Homo sapiens: one gene and its partner. Changing the gene in region 2 together with the main gene of any one other region gives a genetic interaction. Each region holds a gene or a part of one and is shown on either strand. Other genes may lie near its edges. The genes, in order: PTAR1 and FBXO8.

Region 1 (3,938 bases), on a different chromosome or scaffold from region 2:
ATATAACTGTTATAGTAACAAGAATAAAAGAATCCTGTTTCTGGGTATGGTTTGTTTTTGGGGGGGATTTTTTTTTTAAACTTAAATTCACAATATAAAAACCTGTCTTGCTCACTAATTAAACTAGGATTAAAATGCCCAGCTAATAATTTGGTATCTAAACTACAGAAAAGAGCCATCTGCACAATTAAAAAACACACTGCTTTGACTGTCTGTTCTTTCAAGAAATACTTTATAAAATAAGAATGGCTTGGATATAGCAGGTGCCCAATAGCTGCTTCCTGAAAGGCTGATTATCCTGGTACTTTAGTGATAATATTCAAATTAATAGTTTTCACTTCTTGTCCCTCTAAAAGAACATTATCTCTGATTTTCTCCTAATAAAGTATACTGAAAACAGCATGTGTCCAAGTCCTGGATGGAAATAGATATATACACACACACATATACATACATATCAGTATCAGGTCATTTTGGCTTCTGTAGACTTCAGTTTCCTCATTTGTAAAATGGTAGAATTGTATTATACCTCCAGTAAGGCAAATGGGATAGATTTCACCCAGCTTTCAAATTTTATGACTGAGAAACCTAGCAGCTATTTTCATGTGAGGAGAATAAAAACAGTCTTAACAGATAATGTAGAGCACTAGGGGGAAAAACACATGAAGAGGTAGTAGGGTGTAAAGACAAAAGTACTTGATTGGAAGTCCAGAGTTCTAGTTAGTTTCCATTCTATCCACTGACAGGCAATGAGAATTCGGCAAGTCACTTGCCATCAGTATCCTCATCTGAAACACAGGAATAGTATCTTCCCTGCCTGTTATGGAAACCAAATAATGTCATGTGAAAATGTGGCAAACTATGAAGTGCTAGACAAAGATCCACCAGTAGAGTTCATTGGTTAATAATGGAAAGCCGAGGCAAAGAATTTAAGCCTTTGTCAAGTTATGTGACCCTAAGACACAGTGTTATGCTGCTTTCTAAAAAACATTACACATACTTTGTAAACATAGGTAGGTCAGTAAGCTTCCAAATAATAGTGTGTTTGACTTCAGACTTCTGTGTCTCATCCCTTAAGTCACAGTCCACTTTTTTCTAGCCAATTTCGAATAGGATTCCTTCCAAAATCATTTTAAAGTTGGAAGGGACTGCATTCCTCTGTCATTTCATCTGATGAGGAAACTGAGGTACAGTGAGGTTTATGAGGATTATCTAAGGTCATATTGCTAGTGGCTAAGTTAAGAATCTGGGCCTCCTAATACTTAGCCCCAAACCCCTGACACTAGAACAAAGAGCAAAACAGGATTTAGATCAATTCCTTCTATTTTTCTGGAAATTTAAGTTCTAATTCCATACTAAAGAAACACTGGAAAACTCAGGAAAAACAAAACAAAACAAAAAAAACCCTAAAAGTCACTTGTAATCCCTGTTTTGCTATTAACATGTTTGGGTATATATCTTTTTTTTTTTTTTTTTTTTTTTCCTGAGACAGGATCTTGCTCTGTCGTCCAGGCTGGAGTGAAGTGGTGCAATCCTCACTCACTGCAGCCTCCAACTCCTGGGCTCAAGAAATCCTCTCACCTCAGATCTCCTGAGTAGCTGGGACTACAGGTATGCACCACCATGCCCAGCTAATATATATATATATATTTTTTTTTTTTGGTAGAGATGTAGTCCCACTATGTTGACCAGGCTGGTCTCAAACTCCTGGCCTCAAGTGATCCTCCCACTGAGCCTCCCAAAGTGTTAGGATTACAGGTGTGAGTCACTGTGCCCAGCTGGGTATACATCCTTTTTTCCTGAGTATTTTCAAAAAGTGGGATCATATTGAACATATTCTATAATCCTTTATGGAAAAAAACTGAGCAATTCCCATTAAACATTTTCCCACATAATCAATTTTGATATTTTTAATGGTTGCAATGAATGTGCTATAAATATCAAACATATCTCTAGTTATTTCTTTACAAAATAGTCTTATGAGAGGAACTACTAATAAATTTCACTCTTTTACACTGTTAGGTTTCTGGCCATTTACATTCCTGGTATTTAACAAGGTATTCAATTACCTGCATAACTAAGAAGATCATAGGATTTTTAAAGATATGATGGTTTGGGACAGCAATCAAGTTCTAATGGTGCTCACTTTTTAGGTCACCTTCATCACAGACTGCTCCAAAGGCAGAGCAATGTGGAACGAACCAGCACATTTACTTAAGATCAAAGTATGATACATCTCTTTGAGCGCCTCACTTCACAATAGGGATCCATTCATTGGCTTCCAGATGATGTTCACAGTTCATGTAACACTGATACTGACTTTGTTCCTTATGTTTAGACAGCTTCTCTGTCTATACTTCTCAGAAACACCATCAACCAGAACAGAGCCACTTATTATCCACAAAAGTTGCATCAACCAGCTTACCTTCTGGGAGGGATGGATGGTACCCAAATACTCAAACTGAATCCTATAGTGTGGAGCAACCAAACAGAAAACAGTCCAAGGATTCAGGAAATGGTAAAAACATTTTAAATCTAAATAGTAGTTATTTTCATTTTGTTCTGCTCCCACCCCCCAAAAGAACTGGAATTCTTTCCAGCATGACCAAAAAGGAAAGCTAGTAAAATATATCTAAAGGAACTGACCGTTGCATATTGATAATTAAAATTCTCCTGGTGATTTAGATATTTCAGAAACCTTATAGGCTTTCTCATTAATTCCAAAGATTATCAACTTATGTTTCACTGAAATTATATTACTGACCTTATTTAGAAAAAGCTACACAAATTACTAGTGTTTATTGTTACTTGCCATGCACGGTTAGGTTTTACATATATTTTATTCTGCACAATAATCTCATAAAGTAGGAATTTTGACCCCATTTTACAGAGGAAGAGTCTTGTCTAAGTCTACTCAGTTAATAAACGACAAGCAAAGACTCAAATCCAGTTTGACAGCTTAGACTATCAAACTCTAAACTCAAATTTTTACAACTATACTACACTATTATTTAAATAAATAAAAATCAGGTATAAGAAGCCCAGTAGACTCTGGCTTTCTATTCTTCAGTTCACCTTGCAGACGATCTAAAATTGCCTTTCATCATTCTTTACTAAAAAATGTTCACTGGTGCCTACCCATTGCCTTAGAAGTGTACATCCTTGAGCCAGCTTTTCTTCACCCCTCATGTCTCACTCAGTTTAAATGCTATTGCCTCAGAAAGAACCTCTTGACCTTATAATCTAAATTGGGTCTCCCTGTTTTTATTCTAAGTACCCTTCTTACTTTTTATGACTCTTTTCATAATCTGTATGTTGACTGATTAAAGTTCCATTAGGATAGGGACCATGTGTGGTTTGTTCATTAAACCACCCAGTTTTTAACCCTGTATACCCAGAGACCAGCATTGTGCCTGTCAAATGGAGGTACTCTTTTGCAGAATGTATGAATGGAATGAAAGAAATTAAATGAGAGTCAAGGATCTCCATAATCTGGCCCTACTGTACCTTCTCAGCCACACTTTGCTTGTTTAGGTCAATTCACTGCTCCCTGTGGAGGTCTCTGGCTCCCTCTGAGACTACAAATCCTACCCAGACTTTAATACTTGGCTTAAAACCCACCTCCACTAGCACCCCTATCCGAGACATAACCAGCCTCCTCTCCACTTCTATTAGACTCCCATAGCACTTGCTCATCATGCTCCTATCCAACTTTTACTATAAACTACTTTGGAGGGTTAATTTACTGTTCATGCAGTTAGTCTTAGGTCTCATCTACACCTGCACTATGCATCACAGTAGTCACTAGGCACATGGAGCCACTACGTACAAATCCATTTAAATTAAATAAAATTTAAAATGTGGTCCCTGTTCATATTAGGGACACTTCAATTGCTCAATAGCTACTATGGCTAGTGGCTACCATATGGAACAGCACA
Region 2 (2,848 bases):
TGAAGTTAAAAATTAGAATTGTCATGGAATTCAAAATTGTGCACATGCAAAAATGATTTGGATATTTGCTTCAGAATCTTAGAAATTATTTACTATCAGTCTAAAAGTCCCTTAGACATTCAAAATTTGATTATCGTATGTCTTGTCCTTGAAAAATCTGTAGTACAACATTCCAGTTGTAATATTGACAACCACTTTTGACTAAGGGTCAGATCTGGAAGGAAGCCAGGATTCAATACCTCTAGTAAGGAGTTTTTACCTCCCTCAACTCCCTCCTCTAAACTAGTAGCTCAACCCATCACATACTATTTCATTCCTAAGGTTATGCTTTTTACTTGGAGGTCACTTTTAACTTACCATATAACTACACTGTTCTCTATCATTCTAATGCTGCATATTTTAACTATTAAATAATTGTTAATTAAGATATACTTCATATAGTTGCTCTCCATTCAGCAGATTTTTTCTTCTCAGTACCCAGTTATGTATTATCTGTGAGAGCAGGGCCCATGTCTAGTACCTCGCACAATGTTAACACATGTAAAGCCCTGGATAGACATTCACTGAACCAATGAGTAAAGAGTGTTTACTGTTCTTCACAATATGTCTTTCTCAATGGACTCTGAACGGGGATCATCAAGATTACAAAAATAGTAAAGTTTGCATAATCACACCACATATAAGCAAGCAAACATTTACCAGAGTTCTAATAATATTTTATTTTATTCCTATGAATGTAAATCATAAATTTTGATGTTTTAAAAATCCTAAATGGTTTAAAGGACTTACCGAGACTTGATTAACCCAGTTTTTAAAATAAAAAATCAAATTATAAATTTATATTATAAAAATAACTGCCAGTTTTGCATAGTAATATAGTAACAAATCAACACTCTTCAAAGTTTAAAGGAAAAGGAAGCTGGTATTGGTTTCTGTCTGAAGTCAGATCTAACTTTTACGAAGACAATAGTTTCAGATCAGAATCAAATAAATTTCAGAACTCAGTTTGAGAGAAAAGGAAAAACTTTAGTTAAAATCTTTACAATAAAATAATTATGACTATAAATCTCTTTAGTTAAATATGTACACATTACATGGTATTTGTATAAAGAATGGAAATGGATAAAGTTTTTCAGGCAAATCTAATGCACAAATACACCATCTTTTAGAGTATAATGTCAGTTTATCATTCGTTAACAGCTGTGTTAGACAGTGGCTCTGCTTTGTGCAAAACGTGATAAACAAAATTAGGAAAAATTCTGCAAAATTATTTAGTTCCCCAAGGAAATTACTAAAATAGAAAATGGCAAAAGAAAAAAAGGTTGCACACTGAAGCTTGATTGTATACTCAGGCTACAATGACCAGCACTGATGTAACCCCCATATCTGCTAAGTCCTTGGGTAGCTTTAGTCTGAAGTAAAAACTGAAGTCCTAGCAATTGTGCTTTTTATGCAGCCACATGGCCAATAAGGTAGATATTGTCATAAAGATGCCCTACAAAATCTTCACTAATATTTTGAGCAGCGCGACGGGTATTTCGAATAAATTCCCTTTTTGACATTTTATTCTTCACATGAGGGCTAGTGAGGTCAATGGAAAGTAGAATCAAAGAGTAGCACAGTACATAGACAGCATCTGGAAAGAAAAAGAAACAGTTCAAATTATTAGTTGGTTTACAAAATATGATTCCAATGGCATTATATAAGGCAAAAATGTTCATAATTTCAAGATATCAAGATTAGCTCATAAATACAGAGTGACCAATCCATCCCAGTTTGTCTAGACTCTTCCCAGTTTTGCACTGAAAGTCCTGTCATCCTGGGAAACTCAATCCTGAGCAAACCAGGATGGTTATCATCCTATCTTAATACTAACTAAGCATGCATTTCCTTCATTTCAAAAGAACTTTAGAACAGTTTAGGAGTGTATAGTAAAAATTCATTCTAGATTTAAAAAATTTAGAATTGGCTTTATTTTCGTCTTTGCTTTCAAATGTGATATTTCTATTCAAACATCCATAAAATACATTTGTATTTATCTCCTCTTTCTAAAAAAAAATTTATATAGAATGCTTTCATAAAAACCTATTTTAATTTGAGAGCATCTTTAATGACAAGAAAACATGAATCTGGTACTAGAAAATAAAATGTAAATAACTCAAAAGATTATTAATATTCTCATTTAAGATGTTATAAAGGCCTGTGGAACTTACATATTAATTTTGAAAGCAAATCTTTAGGGAAAAGACTGCTACACCTGAGCACCATGCAACAAGATTTTATATATGCCTAGGGTAATATTTGATGTTTAATATTAAAATAGTAACAATCGTCATAATAGTTCTACTACTATAGTGCTGATATTTCGGAATCCTGCAGTCTTAAGAAAGCCAAGTTGAACATTATGTCTTGTAAAGCATGCTCAACAAATTTCACACGACAGGAACAGTTTTGTAATTTCTGTTTAATCAGATAAGCACAATAAAATTTTTGATATGAAAAGATAAGCTATATGAATTGAAACAATATGTAGAAGATTCAGGCTATATCATAAGCATACAAACATACACATATAGATAGAAGTACACACAAACAGACATATATAACAACTTTATATATATACAAATGTCTATATGTCTATATGTGTATATAGACATAGACACAGTCTATGTGTATGTCTATATGTGTATATAGACATAGACATTTGTATACATATAAATTTGTAATATATATATTTATATATAAATTTGTAGGTAATATATAAAAAATATAAATGGCTATATATACATAGCCATGTATATATATATATACACACACACACACACACACACGCACACCATAGCTATGA

The links.
Region 1: changes in FBXO8 (region 2) and PTAR1 are lethal when combined (synthetic lethality), as found in Homo sapiens cells (one study listed by BioGRID).

Annotation. Positions count from the first base shown.
Region 1 is NC_000009.12:69,753,074-69,757,011, forward strand, and holds part of PTAR1 (protein prenyltransferase alpha subunit repeat-containing protein 1), read right to left. Parts: intron 1-3,938.
Region 2 is NC_000004.12:174,235,964-174,238,811, forward strand, and holds the end of FBXO8 (F-box only protein 8), read right to left. Parts: intron 1,637-2,848; coding exon 1,449-1,636; 3' UTR 695-1,448; downstream 1-694. UniProt on the Homo sapiens protein: May promote guanine-nucleotide exchange on an ARF. Promotes the activation of ARF through replacement of GDP with GTP.